Homo sapiens: one gene and its partners. The protein of the gene in region 3 interacts with the protein of the main gene of each other region in a pairwise test. Each region holds a gene or a part of one and is shown on either strand. Other genes may lie near its edges. The genes, in order: MS4A13, TMEM54 and SLC12A7.

Evidence for each region.
Region 1: the proteins of SLC12A7 (region 3) and MS4A13 interact in binary tests that used the Homo sapiens proteins (3 or more experiments, as listed by UniProt).
Region 2: the proteins of SLC12A7 (region 3) and TMEM54 interact in binary tests that used the Homo sapiens proteins (3 or more experiments, as listed by UniProt).

Annotation. Positions count from the first base shown.
Region 1 is NC_000011.10:60,539,368-60,543,118, forward strand, and holds the end of MS4A13 (membrane-spanning 4-domains subfamily A member 13), read left to right. Parts: intron 1-3,151; coding exon 3,152-3,208; 3' UTR 3,209-3,354; downstream 3,355-3,751. UniProt on the Homo sapiens protein: May be involved in signal transduction as a component of a multimeric receptor complex.
Region 2 is NC_000001.11:32,899,738-32,903,488, reverse strand, and holds the start of TMEM54 (transmembrane protein 54), read left to right. Parts: upstream 1-2,099; 5' UTR 2,100-2,250; coding exon 2,251-2,266; intron 2,267-3,751.
Region 3 is NC_000005.10:1,049,884-1,053,214, reverse strand, and holds the end of SLC12A7 (solute carrier family 12 member 7), read left to right. Parts: intron 1-763; coding exon 764-855; 3' UTR 856-2,831; downstream 2,832-3,331. UniProt on the Homo sapiens protein: Mediates electroneutral potassium-chloride cotransport when activated by cell swelling. May mediate K(+) uptake into Deiters' cells in the cochlea and contribute to K(+) recycling in the inner ear.

The DNA of each region.
Region 1 (3,751 bases), on a different chromosome or scaffold from region 3:
CAGAGGTGAGCTGACAAAAAACAAAATAAACAGACATAAAGAGAGCAAAAAAGATATTGCCCAGTCCGAAGAACAGGAAAAAAAGAAAATGAAGAAAACTGTACAGAACCTCAAAATCCTTTGAGATACCATCACATGTATAATGGGAGTCCCATAAAAATGGGGAGTACCAGAAAAAAAATTAAAGAAATAATGGCTCCCAAATTCCCCTAATTTCATGGAAAACATTCAATACATCCAAAAAGCTCAAGGATCTTCAAGTAAAATAAACACAAAGAGATCCTCCTAGACACCTCCATGTCAAACTGATAAAAAAGAAAATCTTGAAAGCAGCAAAAAAAAATAAAAACAAGACTCTTCATATATAAGGGAACCACAATAATATAAACAGCTGGGTTCTCATCCAAAACAATGGAGGCCTGAAGGTAGTGGAATGGGATATTAAAGTGCAGGGGGAAAAACAGTCAGGCAGGAATTCTTTATCCTTTAAAACTATCCCTCAAAAATGAAGGTGAAATACAGACATACACAGATGAATAATGTGTTGCTAGCAGAAATTCCTCATGAGAAACACTAAAGGAAGTTCTTTAGACTGAAGTGACATCAGATGAAACTCAAATGCACATGAATAAATAAAAAAAGTGCCAGTAAAAGTAATTATGTAGGTGGTTATGAAAATCAGTATAAATACATCTTTTGTGTTTTCTTCTGTTAACTGATTTAAAAGACAGTAGCATTAATTGCATTGGGCTCACCCAGGTAATCCAGGATGATTACCTTAATTTAAGGTCGTGTTATTAGTAACATTAATTCCATCTGTCATAACTACTCAGCTCCACCTTTTAGCATGAAAGTATTCATAGACAATACATAAAGGAATGGATATGGCTTGTTCCAGCAAAACTTTATTTGCAAAAACGGGAGTGGGCTAGATTTGGTCCATGTATCATAGCTTGCCAACCCTTCTTCAATAGACAGTTTCTCAATTTTTCTCTTAAATTTTAAAAGATAAGATTATAAAAGCAGTAATTATAACACCATATTGGTAGTTACATAATATATATAGATAGAATAGATGACAATAATAGCACAAAGAAAAGGAAAGGGAATGAGTTATATGGGAATAAAGTTGCTGTATTTTACTGGAATTGAATTAGCATTCATCTGAAGTAGACTGTGATAAATTAGGGTGCTTATTTAGTGATTAAGCAAGCTAAAAATATAATAGCTTAAAAACAAGGGAATTAACATACACAAAGTATGTTTAATTTTTAAAAAATAAAGAAAGAACACAATGGCCAGGCTTGGTTGGTTAACACCCATATTCCCAGCATTTTGGGAGGCCAACTCGGGAAGACCATATGAGCCCAGGAGTTCAAGACCAGCCTGGGCAACATGACGAGACCTCATCTCTACAAAAAAGTAAAAATAAAAACACTAGCTATGCATAGTGCCACATGCCTGTGGTCCCAGCTACTTAGGCAGCTGAGGTGGGAGGATCACTTGGAACCCAGGAGGTCAAGGCTGCAATGAGCCATATTCAGGCCACCGTACCCCAGTGTGGGTGACAGAGTAAAACCCTATCTCACAAAAAAAAAAAAAAAGGAAAGGAAAAGAAAACACATGAGACGTGTATAAAACAAATAATAAAATGTCAGATATAAATCTATTCATTGTAATAATAACATTAAAATGACAGAGATATTTTAAAGTACCTACTGGAATGACTGAATTTCAAACTATTGACAATGCCAACTGATAGCAAAGATTGTAGATAAAAGAAATATCTCTCAAACTCCTAGTTGAAATATAAGTTATTGCAACAATTTTTAAAACCTTTTGGGCATTACCTACTAAAAATTAAAATGTGCATACCCTATGATCAGTAATTTAAGTCTTTGGTATATAACCAACAGAAATGTTTGCGCTTATGCATTAAGATAAACTTCCAGGAATATATAGAGAGCAGTATTATTCATAGTAGTCCCAAAGTGGAAACAACACAGGTGGGTGAGTGATGAATAAGTTGAGGTGTATTACTTCATTCAAATTTGACATGGTGATTAAAAGCAACTATACCTGCACTTAACATCATGGATGGATCTTACAAATAAAATGTTGAGTATAAAAACTCAAAAGAATGCATACTTGTAAAAAAATCCATTCATATGAAGTTTGAAACCAGGTAAAACTAAAGCTAACCTATAGTGTTTAGGGATGAAGCTTAGTTCATGAAACTAGAAAAAAAATTGACCTTATCTAAAAGTCAAAATGACCATTACCTTGAAGGGAAGGAATAGGTAATGGTTGAGAAATGTCATGAGAGGCTAGGGTGCTGGCATCTATTAAGATTTATGTTCAAGAAGACTATGGTTATTTTTATTATAAAAGTTTGAAGGTACACCAAAAGATACAAGTGATCCAACAGAAATTAAGAAAGTAGGTTGAAGGCTGGGCATGGTGGCTCACACCTGTAATCATAACACTTTGGGAGTCTGAAGCAGGAGGATCACTTGAGGCCAGGAGTTCAAGATCAGCTTGGTCAACATGGTGAAACCCCGTCTCTACTAAAAATACAAAAAAATTAGCCAGGCATGGTGGCACAGGCCTGTAATCCTAACTACTCGGGTGGCTGGGGCATGAGAATCTCTTGAGTCTGAACCTGAAAGAGAGGTGGTTGCAGTGAGCCGAGATCGCACCACTGCACTCCAGCCTGGGCGACATGACCTTGAAAACAGAACAAGACCTTGAAAAAAAAAAAAAACCCAAGGAAGGAAGGAATGTAGGAAGGAAAAAGAGAGAGAGAGAAAGAAAGAAGAAAGGGAAGAAAGGGAGGAAGGGAGGAAGGAAAGAAAGAAAGGAAGGAAGGAAGGAGAAAGAAAAAGAGAAAGAAAGAAAGAAAAAGGAAAGAAAGAAAGAGAAAGAAAGAAGAAAGGGAGGAAGGGAGGAAGGGAAGAAAGAAAGAAAGAGAAAGAGAAAGAAAGGAAGAAAGAAATAAGGTTGAAATAGGAATGGGACAGAAATAGGATACTTTAAGATTTCACTCTATAAATATCAGTATTACCTGTATTTTTTAAGAAAAAGATCTATTTATTAGTTGTATAATATTAAGAAACATGATATGATTTGTAAGAGGTTACTTTTTTTCCAGTTTCGAAGACAAAATGATCTTACATCTGTTACTGAGGAAGCTGAGAGCACTCCTTAAAAACCCTAGAAATATGAGAATTTTGCTGTTGCTGATGCCTGGTGTGGGTCCTAATGATATCTCTGTATAACAAAGCAGTTACGAAGCCTACAGATTTTGTGCAAAATAAAATACAAACAAGGTGAATTTTTCTCCTCATTCAAAAATGTCTCTGCTTATATTTTTCTAGGCTGCAAGGAAAGTTTTTCCCTATTTAAATATGAGATTATTACAGGATGAATGTGTTATCTAGGTACGCTGAATAGCTGTCAACTCTCCATAATAAAGCTTTTGTAAGAGACTGTAAAAAAGATTCATTATTATCTCTAGAGTGAAGGCTATAAAGACTTGGGCCATGATGTCGTATAATTCACAGGAAAACTTTAAATACTTATGTCCATACAAGCAGAAAGCACATTTTACAGTCTGAGTTCTTCTACTTTAACTAGCTTCTATCAAAGTATGAATCAAAAGGCCTCTAATTCATATTTCCTTCATTGTTCTTTGACTTCTCTTCTCCTTATTTAAAGTTCCTTTCTGCCCTGAACATATCTGCTATCTTTC
Region 2 (3,751 bases), on a different chromosome or scaffold from region 3:
ACAAATGGAATTTCTGGGCCACAGTTACAAGTGTCTGAACATTTTTTTTTTTTTTTGAGACGGAGTCTCACTCTGTCACCCAGGCTGGAGTGTAATGGCCCGATCTCGGCTCACTGCAAGCTCCACCTCCCAGGTTCACGCCATTCTCCTGCCTCAGCCTCCTGAGTAGCTGAGACTACAGGCGCCCGTCAACACGCCGGCTAATTTTTTTTTTTTTTTTTTTTTTTTTGTATTTTTAGTAGAGACGGGGTTTCATCGTGTTAGCCAGGATGGTCTCGATCTCCTGACCTCGTGATCCGCCCACCTTGGCCTCCCAAAGTGTTGGGATTACAGGCATGAGCCACCGCACCCGGCCACAAGTGTCTGAACATTTATAATATGAGTAAGTACTACCCAAATTGCCCTACTAAAAGATTGTCTGAGGACATCAACATTCCGATGCCAGCCCGATGTCTTCATAAACTGCCCCCATCTTCCCTTCCACCTGACAAATATGTCTCCCCACCCGGAATTCCCTGCACATTATCCCCCTTCAGACAGCAGGTGACAGGGAAGCAGCTCTGCTGGGGGGTTACCAGATGGGATGCCCCGGGGGGCTTCCTAGGAGAAATGGCTCCACTTCCTCCCATGGTGTTAATGCGTTCTCCAAACTCCAGAGGCTCTACATCTGACCCAACTGCCCAACACACACAGCGCCGCAGGTGTCAGCACAGGTGTGCAGAAAGACACACAGACAGTGGACAGCCCCCAGGACAGGCTCCAACCAAGCACCCAGAGACAGCCAGCCAGCCCCTGACCTCTGGGACACTGCCCAGTGGGGTAAGTGGGGCAAGCTGTGAACAGATGTTGCCCAGTTCCCATAGTAAGTGCCTCCAAGGACCGAAAGAGCCCAGGGAGGTGGCCACGGTGTGGCCACTCTACAGAACTTGGGCACAGAGACCCAAGGGGATTCCAGGCTCCTGCCTACTCCACCACTTCCAGCTGGTGGTCTTGGGTGAGTGGTCTGTGGTCTCTGAGCCCAAAGGTGCAGGAATGGTACCTATGCCAAAGGGATGCTGAGACTAACAAGGGACCTCACTGGGGTCCATCCTGACACATTAAAGGGCTCAGCAACCCAGAGCAGTACTAATAAAGCTCCTACTATGTGCTCTTGCTAGGTCTACACTTTGTCCATACAGACAGTCTGGAGAGTTTCCAAAGCGTGTTGTTGTTGTTTTGTTGTTTTGAGATGGAGTGGCGAGATCTCAGCTCACTGTAACCTCTGCCTCCCGGGTTCAAGCGATTCTCCTGCCTCAGCCTCCAGAGTAGCTGGGATTACAGGCTTGCCCCACCACATCCGGCTAATTTTTGTATTTTTAGTAGAGACGGGGCGGGGGGGGGGGTGCGGGGGTGTTTCACCATGATGGCCAGGCAGGTCTCGAACTCCTGACCTCAGGTGATCTGCTTGCCTAGGCCTTCCAAAGTGCTGAGATTACAGGCATGAGCCGCCGCGCCCGGCCGAAAGCGCTTTCTTACCTAATTTTTGTATCCTATTTTGTCTCACCACGACCTTCGGGGACAGGAATTATCCCTGATTTTCCAAGGACGGAACTGAAGGCCCTCCCGACTAAGAAGGAGACTTAAAGCGCCTTTTTCAGCGTGGAAGACAAGACTCGCGGGCGCTAAAGGCAAGCGCAGAGAGGGGAGGCGATTTGCCTGAGGTCACACAGCAGGCAGGGGCAGACCCCAATCCCCAGCAGCTCTTTCACTGCCCCTGCTGCCCCTCTCCGTCCCAGCCTTGGGCCCGGGGGCTTTCCGCCCAAGAGCCACACCCAAGTCACGGTAACCACAGCTACGCCGGCAACCCCCAACTTGCCGCGGGCCCGCGCGGGGCGGCTCCTCAGAGCCTCAGTTTCCCTTTCTAGAGCGGGCCCGCCGCCGCCGGTGGGCTGAGGGAGGGCGGCTCGGCGCCGGGCGGGCCGGGCGGGGCGGCGCCTGACTCAGCGGGCGGGCCATGGGCTGCTCAGCCGGTCCGACCGGCCGGGAGGGGCACGAGCCGCGGGGGCGCTGCGGGGCCGGGCGGCCCGGGGGGTGACGGGAAGGGAGGCCGGTCCGGCGCCGCCCAGCCCCGGGCTCCGGGCGGGAAGTGGGCGAGCGCGACGGTGCGGGGCGCGCGGGCGACGGGCCAGCGGGATGGGAGCAGGGTCCCCCGGCGGCCCGCAGCCTCGGGAGCCGCGCTGAAGCCGGGGGCGGGACCAGCGCGGAGCCGACATGTGTCTGCGCCTCGGTGAGCGACTGGGGGCGCGCGGGAGGCCCCGAACCACCCCAACCCTCCCACAGGAGCGGAGCACTGAGCCCGGAACCCGAGCCCCCAGGGGGCCAGGCCACCTGCTCTGCCTCTAACTTACTACGAGGCCGGGGTCGGGTCACTTTCCTCTCTGGGCCTCAGTTTCCCCAGCAGTGAAATGGAGGGGAGGAGCGCTGCGGGTGTCTTCTCGATGTGGCTGTAGCGTCTCTTACCCTCGCCCTCTCTTGCCTTTCCTGCGGAGGCGCACGACTGCCCTCGGGGACCCCCGGGTGGGCGGCAGAGGAGACGCTGGAGAGAGCAGCCCCATCTTACCCAGAAGGGACCCCGGGGCCAGGCCTCAGCTTCCCCACCCTTACAAGGGGCTCCCACTTACATACTCTCCACTCTCCCGAGGCCAGGAAGGAAAGCCGTGGGCAAAAAGGATCAGCAGCGGGGGAGCGGGACTAATGTGCCCCCTCCTTCCACTGCCTGGGCACGGTGATGCTGCTTGTGGGCAGCAGAGTCCTGGGGCATCCCCGCTGTCTAGCCGAGAGACCTTGTGAGCCTCAGTTTCTTTGTCTGTAAGAGGGGGACAGTAGTTCCCACCTCCTAGGACTACTATGAGGATGAGGGCAGCTTCTAAGAGTAAAGCGCTTAGCACCTTGCCGGCTGCGCTGCTATGCGCTCCCACAGTGGTAAGACAAATGAAGCCAGCTGGGCTTCATCTGGGAGGCAGCACTCTGGGAGGCCGAGGCAGGCGGATCGCTTGAGTCCAGGAGAGACTAGCCTGGCCAACATAGTGAAATCCGTCTCTACAAAAAATTTAAATAAAGAAAAAAAAATTTAGCCCGGCTACTCAGGAGGCTGAGGTGGAAGGATCACCTGAGCCCAGGAGGCAGAGGTTTCAGTGAGCCACGATCAGGCCAGTGCACTCCAGCCTGGGCTACAGAGTAAGACCCTGTCTCAATCAATTTAATTTAAAAAGTCAAGGACTGCTCCAGGCTCAGTCCAGTGCTCCAGGCACAGCCCCATGCTGGCACCGTGCCTCCTCTTTGACCAAAGTCTTGGTCCTGGGATGCTGTTGTTATTGAGTCCAGCCCTCAGCTGGAAGGTAGACACCGAGCTCCCAGGTAGGTGGGTGGAGGGGGTGAGGTGGGTCAGGCTCCTGCGCTGAAGCTGCCATGCCCCTTCCTGCTTGGCTGGCAGTCCATCTTCACAATGCTATTCCAGTCTCATGGTGCCTGTCCAGCCCATCGTCTGCCCTCTGCTTCTGCTAGACCTGGTTCAGCTCCAGAGGGTCCTGCAGTCTCCAGGGGTCTCAGACACTGGCTGGACCAATGCCTCCCCATTTTATAGATGTGGAACTTGGGGCCCAGAGGGGAGGGGCTGGTGCATGGTCACACAGCAAGTCTGTGACTGAATAGCCCCATCCCTTCCTGCTCCCTGGGGACTGTCTCTTGGCACAGCTTCAGACAGATGTCCCAG
Region 3 (3,331 bases):
GACCGGGATGCAGTGGGGCTCTGAGCCCAGTGGTGACCGGGCCAGAGTTGGGGCCAGCCCTGGCATTGGTGTGGGGGAGGGAGGGCCCGCCTACAGTACCAGCCCCACTGTCCCCAGGTGCTCAGGGCTGCCCTGGGGCTGGGAGGCTCCCTGTCATGCATCCCCACAGCAGCTGTGCATTCTGGGACCTCCGCTGGGGCTCAGCCCCACCCTGCGCCGACAACGGTGGGAGGTGAGGAGCCCAGCTCTCGGCTTTAAGGCCACAATTGGTCGCAGCTTTGGGAATTTGTGCTTTGGAAGGAGAACTCCGCAGTGCATCTGGGCGTATTGGCACAGACAGGGTGACGCCTGGCACATCCCTGCCAGGTTGGCACCAAGAACTGGGGCCAGTGAGGGCATGTCCTCCATGCGTCCTGATCGGAATCCGTGGCCCAGGTCCCCTGTAGGCTGGTGAGGACCCAGTCCCGTGGCTGGGGTTCCCTGTCGGGTGGGGTCAGCACCGTGGGCTGTGTCGCTGTCTCTGCTCGTCCTCCCTGTGGCCACGGTGCTCCCTCTCTTTCCCGAGCACTGGCCCCTCTCTCCCCTGCCCTGCTCCTCCCCGCCTGGGGGGTCTCTCTAATCCCCACCTCTCTTTTCACCTTGGCTCTGGGTTTCTCAAACCAAATCTTAGCTAACCAGGAGAGGATAAACCTCACTCCTATCACGATTTCAGCTACACACGCTCAGGTAAGATCAGCTGTGGCCTTAACTCTGTTGACCACAGACATGGAGTTTCTTGAAGTCCTGACCGAGGGGCTGAACAGAGTCCTCCTGGTCAGGGGTGGCGGCCGGGAGGTGATCACCATCTACTCCTAATGCCCAACAGCATCACGGCACTCTGGGACAGGCACGGAGGACGGCGTGGGCAGCCTGGGCCTGGGCTTGGCCCAGGGAAACAGACGGCAGACACACCTGTCCCCCAGTGATGCCGCCCAAGCTGCCCATGGGGCTTCCTACGGAAGTTTCTAGGCCCGTCACCTAGGGCTCTCCTGTTCAGCCTTAACAGGCTCAGCAAATCAGGGCGTGGCTGGACGATTTCCTTGCATCTGAGGGCAGACGCTGCTACCGGAGTGACCTGGACGTGGCCAGATCTTCTCGCAGGTCACAAGAAGCCAGTGAGCCCTTGCCTTGGTTTCTGGAAGTTCTTTTCCTTGGCTGGATTTACCCAGTGGTTAGGTTGCATTTCTACCCCATCCAGAACATTCTTGGAAGAGCACCCGGAGCTGAAGCTGTCCCTGATGATGAAGGTGAAACGTCAGCCCTGGCCATGGCTCCGCTCAGGGCCCCGGTCACCTCCGAGTCACTCTGTTCCTTGACTGTCTTTGTGTTTCTGTACCTCAAGGCACTGAAGCTGGAGGACTCTGTCCATGCCCGTGTCACCCTCGTGTGGGAGCCTCTGGGCTCGGCAGGTCCACATTTCATGAGCTGAGGCGTGGGCCAGGGCCATCTGGAAAGGGAACTCGGCTTTTCCAGAACGTGGTGGATCATCTGTCGGGTGTGTGGTGAACACGTTCAGTTCATCAGGGCCTACGCTCCGGGAAGGGGCCCCCAGCTGTGGCTCTGCCATGCCGGGCTGTGTTTGCAGCTGTCCGAGTCTCCATCCACCTTTAGAAAACCAGCCACTTCTTTTCATAAGCACTGACAGGGCCCAGCCCACAGCCACAGGTGCGATCAGTGCCTCACGCAGGCAAATGCACTGAAACCCAGGGGCACACGCGCGCAGAGTGAACAGTGAGTTCCCCCGACAGCCCACGACAGCCAGGACTGCCCTCCCCACCCCACCCCACCCCAGGAGCACGGCACACAGTTCAGCCTCTGAGCTGGCTCACACGTGCCATCCCCACCCCGGTGCTCCAGGGAAGGAGGACACGGACCCGACGTGGGAGGTCCTCAGGCAGCAGTGGCGCCTGGTGTCAGGTCTGTCTGGCTGAGTCCCGGGCGTCCCCTGCCATGGCCTGTGCCTTGCATGGAGGCGGCGGTGGCACTGAAGAGATAGCTTTCAAGGGCCCAACACTTTGCACTTCGGCTGGCTGTGAGTTTCTGCTTTGTAGGTTGTGGTCACATTTGCAGGCTGCGGGCAGTGGCACCGACTTGGGCCTCCCTTTCTATGTGGCATATTTATTTATTTAAACACCCCAGGGAGTTACGTGGTAACAAGGTTGTCCATAAAGAGGTTGCTTCTATATACTAGAGGCCCCAGATGGCCAGGCCTTGGGCTACGTCTGGCTTGCATGGTCTCCCAAGGGAATCAGCCCCATCAACAAAGTTCAAATCGGGGCAGAGGCTGCACTTGTGCCCCCAGATGTTTCTGAGGAGCCAGACTAGGGCTGGCATTGCTGTAGAGTGACGGCTGCTGCCCAGAGCGTGTCCCAGACATCACAGCGGGGCTCAGCAGTTCCCACAGCCTCTGCCTGCCTTGGCTAAGCATGAGTTAAGCAGCAAAACGCTCCTCCATGTCTGGATGGGGCCGGCAGGTCCTGTGTCCCCTGCACCTGGAGGAGAGCAGGCTAGAGGCACAGCGGCCACATGGTGCTGGCTCTGAACGTTGGTTGGTGGCTGGAAAACAGCCCTGCTTCTGAGGGCCGCTCAGTTCTGCACACGAAACCACCTCCTGAGGGCTCAGCTCTGCCCCCGCCCTGGGCTGCAGCCTCTGCACGCAAGCACCAGGCATCCTTTGTGTTGTCAACTCCGTGTAACCAGTAACTACAGCCATTTACAATTGACTCCGTTTCCTTTTGTAGGTTTCCCTGTCTGTCTGTGTTAGTAGAAAAATAAAATCCTATGAAATCTGAGTACGTTGAAGAATCTCTTGAGTCTCATTCAGCATGAAAGACAGCTGGAGAAAATGTACTGGCCGCCCCTTTTCTAGCAGGAGCGTCAGGGCTGACCAGCCACAGCCAACTCAGGTGGCTGAAGAGTGACCATATGAATTGGACGAGGGCTTCCAAATCATGTCATCGGCTTGGAAATGACCTTACCCCAAACTTCCTAGTGCTGTGTGTTGAAGTGACCCAATCTCTGTATTTCTGAGACAGTCTCTGTTGCCTAGGCTGGAATGCAGTGGCGTCACCTCAGCTCACTGCAACCTCCGCCTCCCAGGTTCAAGCTATTTTCCTGCCTCAGCCTCCCGAATAGCTGGGATCACAGGCGTGTACCACCACGCCCAGCTAATTTTTGTATTTTAGTAGAGATGGGGTTTCACCATGTTGGCCAGGCTGGTCTCGAACTGACCTCAAGTGATCTGCCTGCCTCAGCCTCCTAAAGTGCTGGGATTACAGGTATGAGCCACCAT